Linked DNA regions of Homo sapiens. The protein of the gene in region 2 purifies or fractionates together with the protein of the main gene of each other region. This does not show direct contact. Each region holds a gene or a part of one and is shown on either strand. Other genes may lie near its edges. The genes, in order: PPP5C and RAB41.

Region 1 (3,809 bases), on a different chromosome or scaffold from region 2:
TTCTACACTATCTATGATGTAAACGCGTCCTTTGGTGTGATGCTTTTGTGCAGTGCACTACATACTCAATCTTAAAAGGTCGCCCTGTGCATGATCTCCGAGTCCACAAAATAAATACAGCTGCAACTATTATCCTTGCAGAGTGAGTGCCCCACTCAGGACCCCACAATGAACCCAAACCTTGTCACTTCCCAGCTCACCTCGAAGGAGGTGAAAGTGATCTGGGTACAGGAGCTTGAAGCCGAAAAGGGTGAGGATCACTTCTACAGAGAAGGAGCCTCGGTCCACAAAGTCACCATTAAATATCTGTCCTGCTGAGGAAAACATGGCAAGCGTGGAGGGGAAGGGTGCGGTGCGGTGGGGTTGGGGGTGGTGGCAGAAGATGGGCCAGATGGGCTGCTCCTGCCTGGCCTCAAGCCTCCTGTCAGCACCTCCCAGGGAGTGAGGACTTGGCAGGGCTCAAGGGATCTGGGTTTCTAATCCTTTCCTCACCGTGGCTCCAGCCAGAGCTTGGCCGCTGAGCCTCAGTAGTATGGCACTGAGGACCCTGCCTCCTGTCTCCCGGAAAGCCAGTGGCGGGGAGGTGCGGGGACTAGTCAGTCCACCTCCTTCAGCTCTCCTCAGAGAGGCCTGGAGCCATGGGGGAGATGGGACACGGGCCCTCCCACTCAACAATGCATAGGCCTAGTGGCCCTACAAGTGGCCGTTCATCGAGCAGATACCATAACACGGGGAAATACTTAGATAGCATCAGGTGTGGGCCAGGCCCTGTTCTTAACCTGTCCTCTCAGTAACTGCTGAGTAACAAGGTTGCACATATTATTATCCCTCTTTGCAAATGGGGAAACTGTGACACCAAGCAGTGAAGTAACCTGCTTCGGTCACACAGCTGGGAAGTGGCAAAGCCAGGATGGAACCCAAGTGTGGCCAGTGCCAGGTGCCATTCAAATGTGATCCTGAGGCAGACGAAGACAAGCCAAGACCCAGAGAGACTGAGCTACCAGCTTAGGTCACACAGCAGGTGGGTGCTGGCCCAGGCCTGTCCGAGCCTGGAGCCTGGGGTGCATGGCCAGCCTGCAGCTCCACCCACACCTTGGTGCCCCAGCATGGCCAGGCCTCTCCTTTCCAAGGTCACGTCTTTTCCTGGCAAGGGCTCCTCCCACTCTGTGCAGACCTGAGGCTGCGGCTGGGGGTGGAGGTGGGGAGAGGGTGGCTCTGCTGAGAAGGATACATAGGGGTTGGTCTCCGAGGGTAAACCGTTGAGCTCGAATATGTTGAGGAGGTCATAGAACTGGCCATGGGTGTCCCCACATACTGTAATCTTCTCTGTCTGAAAGAAAAGAGGCCACCGGAGAGGGACGGGCCGAGAGAGAGACGTGGGGAGGGGGCAGAGGTGAGGGGAAGGGTAAGAGTTCACAGTAGACCAAGAAGAATCATGCAAGAGACACAAGCAGGGAACACAAACGAAGACCAAGAGGCCAGGAGAGAAATGGGATATTCAGGAGGAAAGGCACAGGGGTGGGGTGTGAGGGAGAGAGGGAGGTGGATCCGTGAGTTCCTGAGCTCTGTGGCCCCTCCCCAGCCAGAGAGCCCACCCCCGCTGGCCCTCCCCGCACTGCCCCACAACGCGCACCTCTTTGAGTGTGGTTTCCACGAGCGTGCTCAGCTTGGAGAGGACCTCTTTGACCTGTACCAGAATCTGGAAGGCAGGGCAGACTCAGTGGGACCGGCTGCAGGGGCTGCTGCCCAACCTGGCCCCGAAAGCCTGGACTGCCCATGAGACGCTGCTGGGCTGAGGGCGAGGGAGAAGCAGGGAGAGAAGAAAAAGGGCAGGGCAGGCCTGGGGGAGCGGGAGCAGGCGGGGCCGGAGGCAGCCGCAGGCTTCTGTGGCCTGTGCAGTGCCGAAGCATTGCGATTGTTTTGTACGAAAACCTGATTCTTGAATTATCTTAAAATACTCAGCATCAAGTGGAAATACATGCATGAATCCAGATCGTAGAACATTTTATAAAAGAACTGGCCTGGACACAGCGCAATGTCACTGTCATAAAAGAGTCTCCCAAAAAAGAAGTGAGACTTTCTAGGTAAAAAGAGGTAAAAAGGCAGGTCATAGGCAACACTGGTGCTTTCAACGGACGCTGAATTTTTTAAAAGCAGCTAAAAAGGATGTTTTGGGGAGAGCTGGGGAGAATTAAAATACTAATAGATGTCTAGAAATGCAGATGATTTATTTTTCACAGATTGGATATGACCTTGACAATGACATGCATATTTGTCAATGTTTCCAGATTTTCCGGATGGCCTGTGGACTGTCTACCTTAGTCAGTATTATCACATCAATGATGAATTTCTAAGGTAGGACAATTCAACTGTGGTCACACAAGAGGACGTCTTTGTTTTTGGGAGATCCAGGTTATGATGGCTGCAACTTACTTTCAAATGGGTTAGGGGAAAAAAAAGAAAAAAGTATACACATACAAATGCATAAATAAGTAGACAGACACATAAAGTTAATGCATTAAAATGTTCACAAGTGGTGAATCTGTGTGAAGGGTGGACAGATGTTAACTGTACTGTTCTTTCAGCTCTCTGTAGGTCTGACGATTTCCAAAATAAGCTGGGGAAAAAGGTGTTAAGAAAATGCAGGCGGCATCCACTTCTAGTCAGAAGGTAGAAAAGTTACAAAAGACTGTCTCGCCCTAAAGATGAAAACAAGCCAAACAAGCAACAAAATCAAAGGTAAAGCCATCTGAGAGCTGGCAATGCAAAGGGACCTAAATTAATCAAAATGCAGACAGGACGAGCCCTTCCTTGGGGAAGGAGCCCACAGCTTTCACCCTGGTGCGAGGCAGCAGGGCGGGATGCCCTGCGTGAGGGGAAATGAGTGGAAGTTCATGACCGTGTGGGGACTGGCGTGACAGATGAGGACTCCAGGGAGCCCCAGCACAGCCCGCCTCTGCCCCCTGCCAACTCCCTCACACGGGCTTCATGGAAGGTTGGGCGCGAGGGAGTGAGGTGCAGAGAAACCTCCTGAGGTACAGAAGTGGGGGCGAGACTGGAGAGCGGAGAGCACCCCAGTGGCCCCACAGTCTGGCGGCAGGGCTGAATACCAGAGGCCTCCCACAGTTCCAAAAGCTGGCGACTTTAAAACATAAAGACATCCCTGGAATTCTGCCAGGGCTAAGATCCCAAGCTCTGCTGAAGGGAAAGTCCTAATTCTACTCTGAACACATTTAAAGCCGGTGGTAAAGAAACTCCAATAAAAGCTGCCCCTAAACTACAGATGAGGTTCACACAGCCCCTCCCTCTTGTGGCTCAACAGGAGAAATGTGTGCCATTTTCTTATTTGTTTATTTGTTTTAAGACAGGGTCTCACTCTGTCACCCAGGCTGGAGTGCAGTGGCTCGAACACAGTTCACTGCAGCCTCAACCTCCCAGGTTCAGGTGATCCTCCCCACTCAGCCTCCCAAGTAGCTAGGACTACAGGTGCCAACCACCATGCCTGGCTAATTTTTGTATTTTTTTTGTAGAGGTGGGGTTTCTACAAGTTGCCCAGGCTGGTCTTGAACTACTGGGCTCAAGCGATCTGCCCACCTTGGCCTCCCAAAGTGCTAGGATTACAGGCCTGAGCCATGGTGCCCAGCCTAAGTGTGCCATTTTCTGAGGAAAAACTTTATTTACCTCAGTCTCTAATGTTCTTTTATACAAAATAGCTGGCATACAATAAAATTGTAAAACACATGAAGAACTGGTAACAGAGCAGACTCAGAGATGAACCAGATGATGGAACTATCAGACAGAGACGTTAA
Region 2 (4,276 bases):
GCTGGAGCAAAGGATTGGGAAGTTGGGGGGGGGGGAAGTAAAGATACTTCTTCAGGGAACCGAAGAGCCTCTAATCAGCTTCAGCTCCATTTTTTCCCTCCGTCTCCATGCTTGCTACAGAGGCCGCTAGGTAATGGAATACAAGATTGGGAAGCCCCATTCCCCTCTTCCCATTTCCACCCTCCATGTTATGACGATAGAAATGTGAAAATGCTTCCTTGGGGTGCTTTCAATACATGTGCAGTGGAAACATATGGCTTAGCTTCGTGTCACAGTTCGGTGCTTTTCATATGCCCTCCTTTCCCTTTCTGCATCCCCCCGCCCTCCACCTTCTGCTCTTGTTGGAATCATCCTTCCCCCTCATCCCCTTCCCATTTTTCTTTTTCCTTTTCCCCCACCCGCTCGCCCTTACTTCTTTCGTCTTTCATTCTTTGATACCTTCCCTCCTTCCCATCCCTCATCCTTATGTCCCTTTCAGTGCTCCTGGGGGACTTTTGTGCTGGGAAATTTGGGCGGGAATGAAAGGAAACAAGCCAGAGTGGCTGATGGAAAAGTGGGGACACCAAGAGGGGGCCGAGGAGCCTACCTGGGAAGCAGGGAGGGGATCACTTTTCTGGGATCAGGAAAAAAGAGTGGACACGGAGGACACCCAGAAAGGGGTTCCTAACCTTCCATTCTCTTCTGCTGCTTCTGCAAGCTCTGAGGACATAGTCATCGAGGAGTTTACGCGGAAAGGCGAGGAGGAGAGCCAGAAGGCTGTGGAGGCTGAGGGAGATGAGGGGAGCTGAGCACCTCGCTCTGGTGCCCGTCTGTGTGGGAGCCCCCACTGTAACACTCTAATAAATCAGTTTGTTCAGATGTGCCTAGCGATCTCTTGCCTATTTCCTCTTCCTGGAGGGTCACGGAACTACTGAGAACAATCTTCCCCACCTCCACCCCTTTGCTGTGATTACACTACACTTAGCCCGTGCTTTTCCCCATACGCTGACCCCAACTTCCCTCTGACACGGTCAGTGGCCATCCCTCTCTCCACCCCATGACCCCACTCGAGTGGTCATAGGATTGCGCTGAACACCAGGCGCAGTGCAAGCTGCCAGGAGGGGGCCGAGGGGGCGTGGCCATGCCCAGGCCTGGGTGTGAAGCCAATGGCCGTCAGCCGACGTCAGTAGAGCATGGCGTGAAGTCCGGCGGCTCAGGCTGAGCGTTGGAAGCCATTTTGGCTGCAACCTACCTGAAGCGATGTCTGCCTTTGGTCACGACGAGGCCTGGATGGAGGCCGGAGGCTTTGGTCTGGAGGCTGCCGAAAGAACGGAATACCAGTCTCTGTGCAAATCTAAACTCTTATTCCTGGGAGAGCAGAGCGGTGTGGGTCTGGGTTGGGCTTTGGGGACATGGAGGTGTAATTGGTATGAAATGGGGTGGGGCATTCTCTGGGGAACCGAGTTCCTCCTCGTTGGGAAAGATTGGAGTTGGAGGAGGAGGGAGGGCTCATAGAAACTTTGAGGGGAGAAAGGGCACTGAGGGCGACGATTGGCCTGCTTATCTCCCTCACAGTAGGGAAGACATCCATCATCAGCCGCTTCATGTACAACAGCTTCGGCTGCGCCTGCCAGGTAAGACCACCACCGAGTCATATGGTACATTTTTGCCACTCTTCTTGGCGGACTCACCTGGAGATTCTCCTCCTCAAAGTTATGTATTGTAAGCATTGGGAAGTGGAGCCAGGACAACTTCTTGAAGGGTCATTCTCCACTTTGGGTTCTAAGACTGCCTCATATTGGGAATAGAGGGAATGCTGGAGTGTATCTGATTTTCTTTTGCAGGCAACTGTTGGAATTGACTTCTTGTCTAAGACCATGTACTTGGAGGACCAAATAGTGAGTGTTAACTCTCATACCACTAACCCTACACTTCAACCCCTTAGGCCTATTCATCACAGTTGGGTAGCACCATCAAAAAAAACTGAAGCCTCTTCAAATTACCAAGCCCTATGATGTTTCTTGTTCTGTCTGCCTTCATCTAATCTCCAACTGTAACATAAAGTCCAAGAGACCTTGAATCCTTAAATCTGCTGTGCTGTAGGGTCTTCCTGAATCAAAACAGTATATTGAAATTGGTTGGACCTGTCCTAGGACTATAGGCCATTTGGTCTGAGGCTATAGCAGCCACTTCTCAGGGATCCAGTCTACCTGACCTTTTGTATTCTGCCTTTATTAGGTTTGAGCTTTTTAAAAAGGCTAGTTTCTTGTCTACCTTTCCCCCATCTTCTTCCTAAACATTTTTATGCAGGTTCAGCTGCAGCTATGGGACACAGCTGGCCAGGAGCGCTTTCACAGCCTAATTCCTAGCTACATTCGTGATTCAACTATTGCAGTGGTTGTCTATGACATTACAAGTGGGTGTTATGCAATGTTTTATTTGAAAAGGGGATTATAAAGGGATTGATAGGGAGATTGACAAAATTAGCAGAGAGGAAGTGTTCTCTCCAAATCTCTCCTAAATGTTTCAACGCTCTGGAACATATTCTCTTGCAGACATCAATTCTTTTAAGGAGACAGATAAGTGGGTAGAACACGTGCGAGCAGAAAGAGGTGACGATGTTGTCATCATGTTGTTGGGTAACAAGATTGATTTGGATAACAAAAGGTAAAGTATAACTACAACTTCTTCTGGCATACCTAAAATTCAGTCTCTATGGGGAGGGTCAACTGTCCTCTATTTACTTGGGGAGGAGTTACCTTAGTCCCCTCTGCCCCCTACCAGCACTGCAGGATGGGAAGGACAGGGGGGCGTCCCATCAGGGCACAAGGATATGTTGGGGGTATAGGAGAGAGTCCCCACCCTGTAGTCAGAAGGGTCATGGGTTTAAGGCTTCTAGGGTTCCTGGCCCTAGGTAAGCATCATTACACCTCAGAAGAGTCTATCCATATCCAATAACTCTGGCCCTTTTCATCATTTCTGATTCGTCCAGACAAGTCACTGCAGAACAGGGTGAAGAAAAATCCAGAAACCTCAATGTGATGTTTATTGAGACCAGTGCCAAAACCGGTTACAACGTGAAAAAGGTAATACTTGTTTCTTTCTATGATACTTTAATTGTGCTCTGTCTGTAGCTACTACTACTGTTTACTCTTTTGGATAAGCTTGGCTTATCTTTTGTGGGATAGGGGTCAAGGTTCATCTCCCCATCATGTATCTCAAAGGCCCTGAATTATCCTAGCCTCTGAACCTGACCTTTTTTTTTTCCCCTTTTTTTTTTTTTGGTCCCCATTCACACACACACACAGCTGTTCCGGCGTGTGGCTTCTGCCCTTCTTTCCACAAGGACTTCACCTCCACCAAAAGAGGGGAGTATCCTTTTTCCTAGCTTTGCTGGGGTAGGGAGTATACAAGTAGAGAAGGTAAGTTTCCTTGCTGAGTTGATGCCTGAGTGGTACCTAAGGGGAAAATGGGACTAACTTTAGCCCAAAGTAGTTCCTTCGTTTGCCTTTAGGTGAGAGGGATTGTAAGATCAGAATTCCTCTTCTACATCTCCTAGAAGCTGACCTTGGGTGTTAAGATTTGACTCCAGTCACCTCACTGTATTAGCTTCCTTGACACACACTTCAGCGGTTGAAATCGAACTGGAATCCTTCGAGGAGTCAGGCAACAGAAGCTATTGTTGACAGCTTAGGCTTTCTCTGCCTCATTTGATGGATTTCTTACATTTGGGCTTGCCATACCAGTTCTCCTCCCCACCTCGTTTTATGATACATGGCCACTTACTCTCTTCCAATTCCTAGGCTTGGGGTAAAAACAGAACCCCTGAAAGTGCTATCATTTTTTCCTGACCGCATCTCACAGCTACTGGGTGGAAGCTTCTTGCAGCACCTGGGAATTCTACCTTACCTTCTCCGACAGCTAAAAGACATCTGTAGAGAATACAGTTCTACAGCAGCTGACATACTTCAAAGGCCAATACAATTCATTCTCCACTGTTTGTTGTTGTTTACCTACACCCTCAATAAATGGTTCTTTAACCTAAGGCTGTTATTGCTTGTGCTTTCTCCACACTATACCTATATTTCCACAATGCAATTATCTCATGTTGGTGCCCTAACATAGAACCAATCCAAGTATTTCAAACAAGAACCAATTTAAGGCAGGAGGGTTTTTGCCTCTTAGGCCCATGGCACCTGGCTGGGACTTTTTACCATGTTTTTCATACTTCTTAGATACAATGTTTTAAGACCTGTTAACCACAGGAAGAGTCTTGGACCTCAACATTCAGCCAAGT

Evidence for each region.
Region 1: the proteins of RAB41 (region 2) and PPP5C purify together in Homo sapiens (affinity purification with mass spectrometry; 2 studies listed by BioGRID and IntAct, with this or other methods). This does not show direct contact.

The regions. Positions count from the first base shown.
Region 1 is NC_000019.10:46,381,301-46,385,109, reverse strand, and holds part of PPP5C (serine/threonine-protein phosphatase 5), read right to left. Parts: exon of another isoform or gene 2,586-3,809; intron 1,700-2,585; coding exon 1,634-1,699; intron 1,331-1,633; coding exon 1,232-1,330; intron 307-1,231; coding exon 201-306; intron 1-200. UniProt on the Homo sapiens protein: Serine/threonine-protein phosphatase that dephosphorylates a myriad of proteins involved in different signaling pathways including the kinases CSNK1E, ASK1/MAP3K5, PRKDC and RAF1, the nuclear receptors NR3C1, PPARG, ESR1 and ESR2, SMAD proteins and TAU/MAPT.
Region 2 is NC_000023.11:70,280,979-70,285,254, forward strand, and holds RAB41 (ras-related protein Rab-41), read left to right. Parts: upstream 1-1,193; 5' UTR 1,194-1,239; coding exon 1,240-1,363; intron 1,364-1,554; coding exon 1,555-1,613; intron 1,614-1,823; coding exon 1,824-1,877; intron 1,878-2,289; coding exon 2,290-2,395; intron 2,396-2,534; coding exon 2,535-2,646; intron 2,647-2,971; coding exon 2,972-3,065; intron 3,066-3,287; coding exon 3,288-3,351; coding exon of another isoform or gene 3,352-3,458; exon of another isoform or gene 3,459-3,609; coding exon 3,610-3,665; 3' UTR 3,666-4,024; downstream 4,025-4,276. Other genes in the region: ARR3 (arrestin-C), read left to right, coding at 121-130, 698-788. UniProt on the Homo sapiens protein: The small GTPases Rab are key regulators of intracellular membrane trafficking, from the formation of transport vesicles to their fusion with membranes.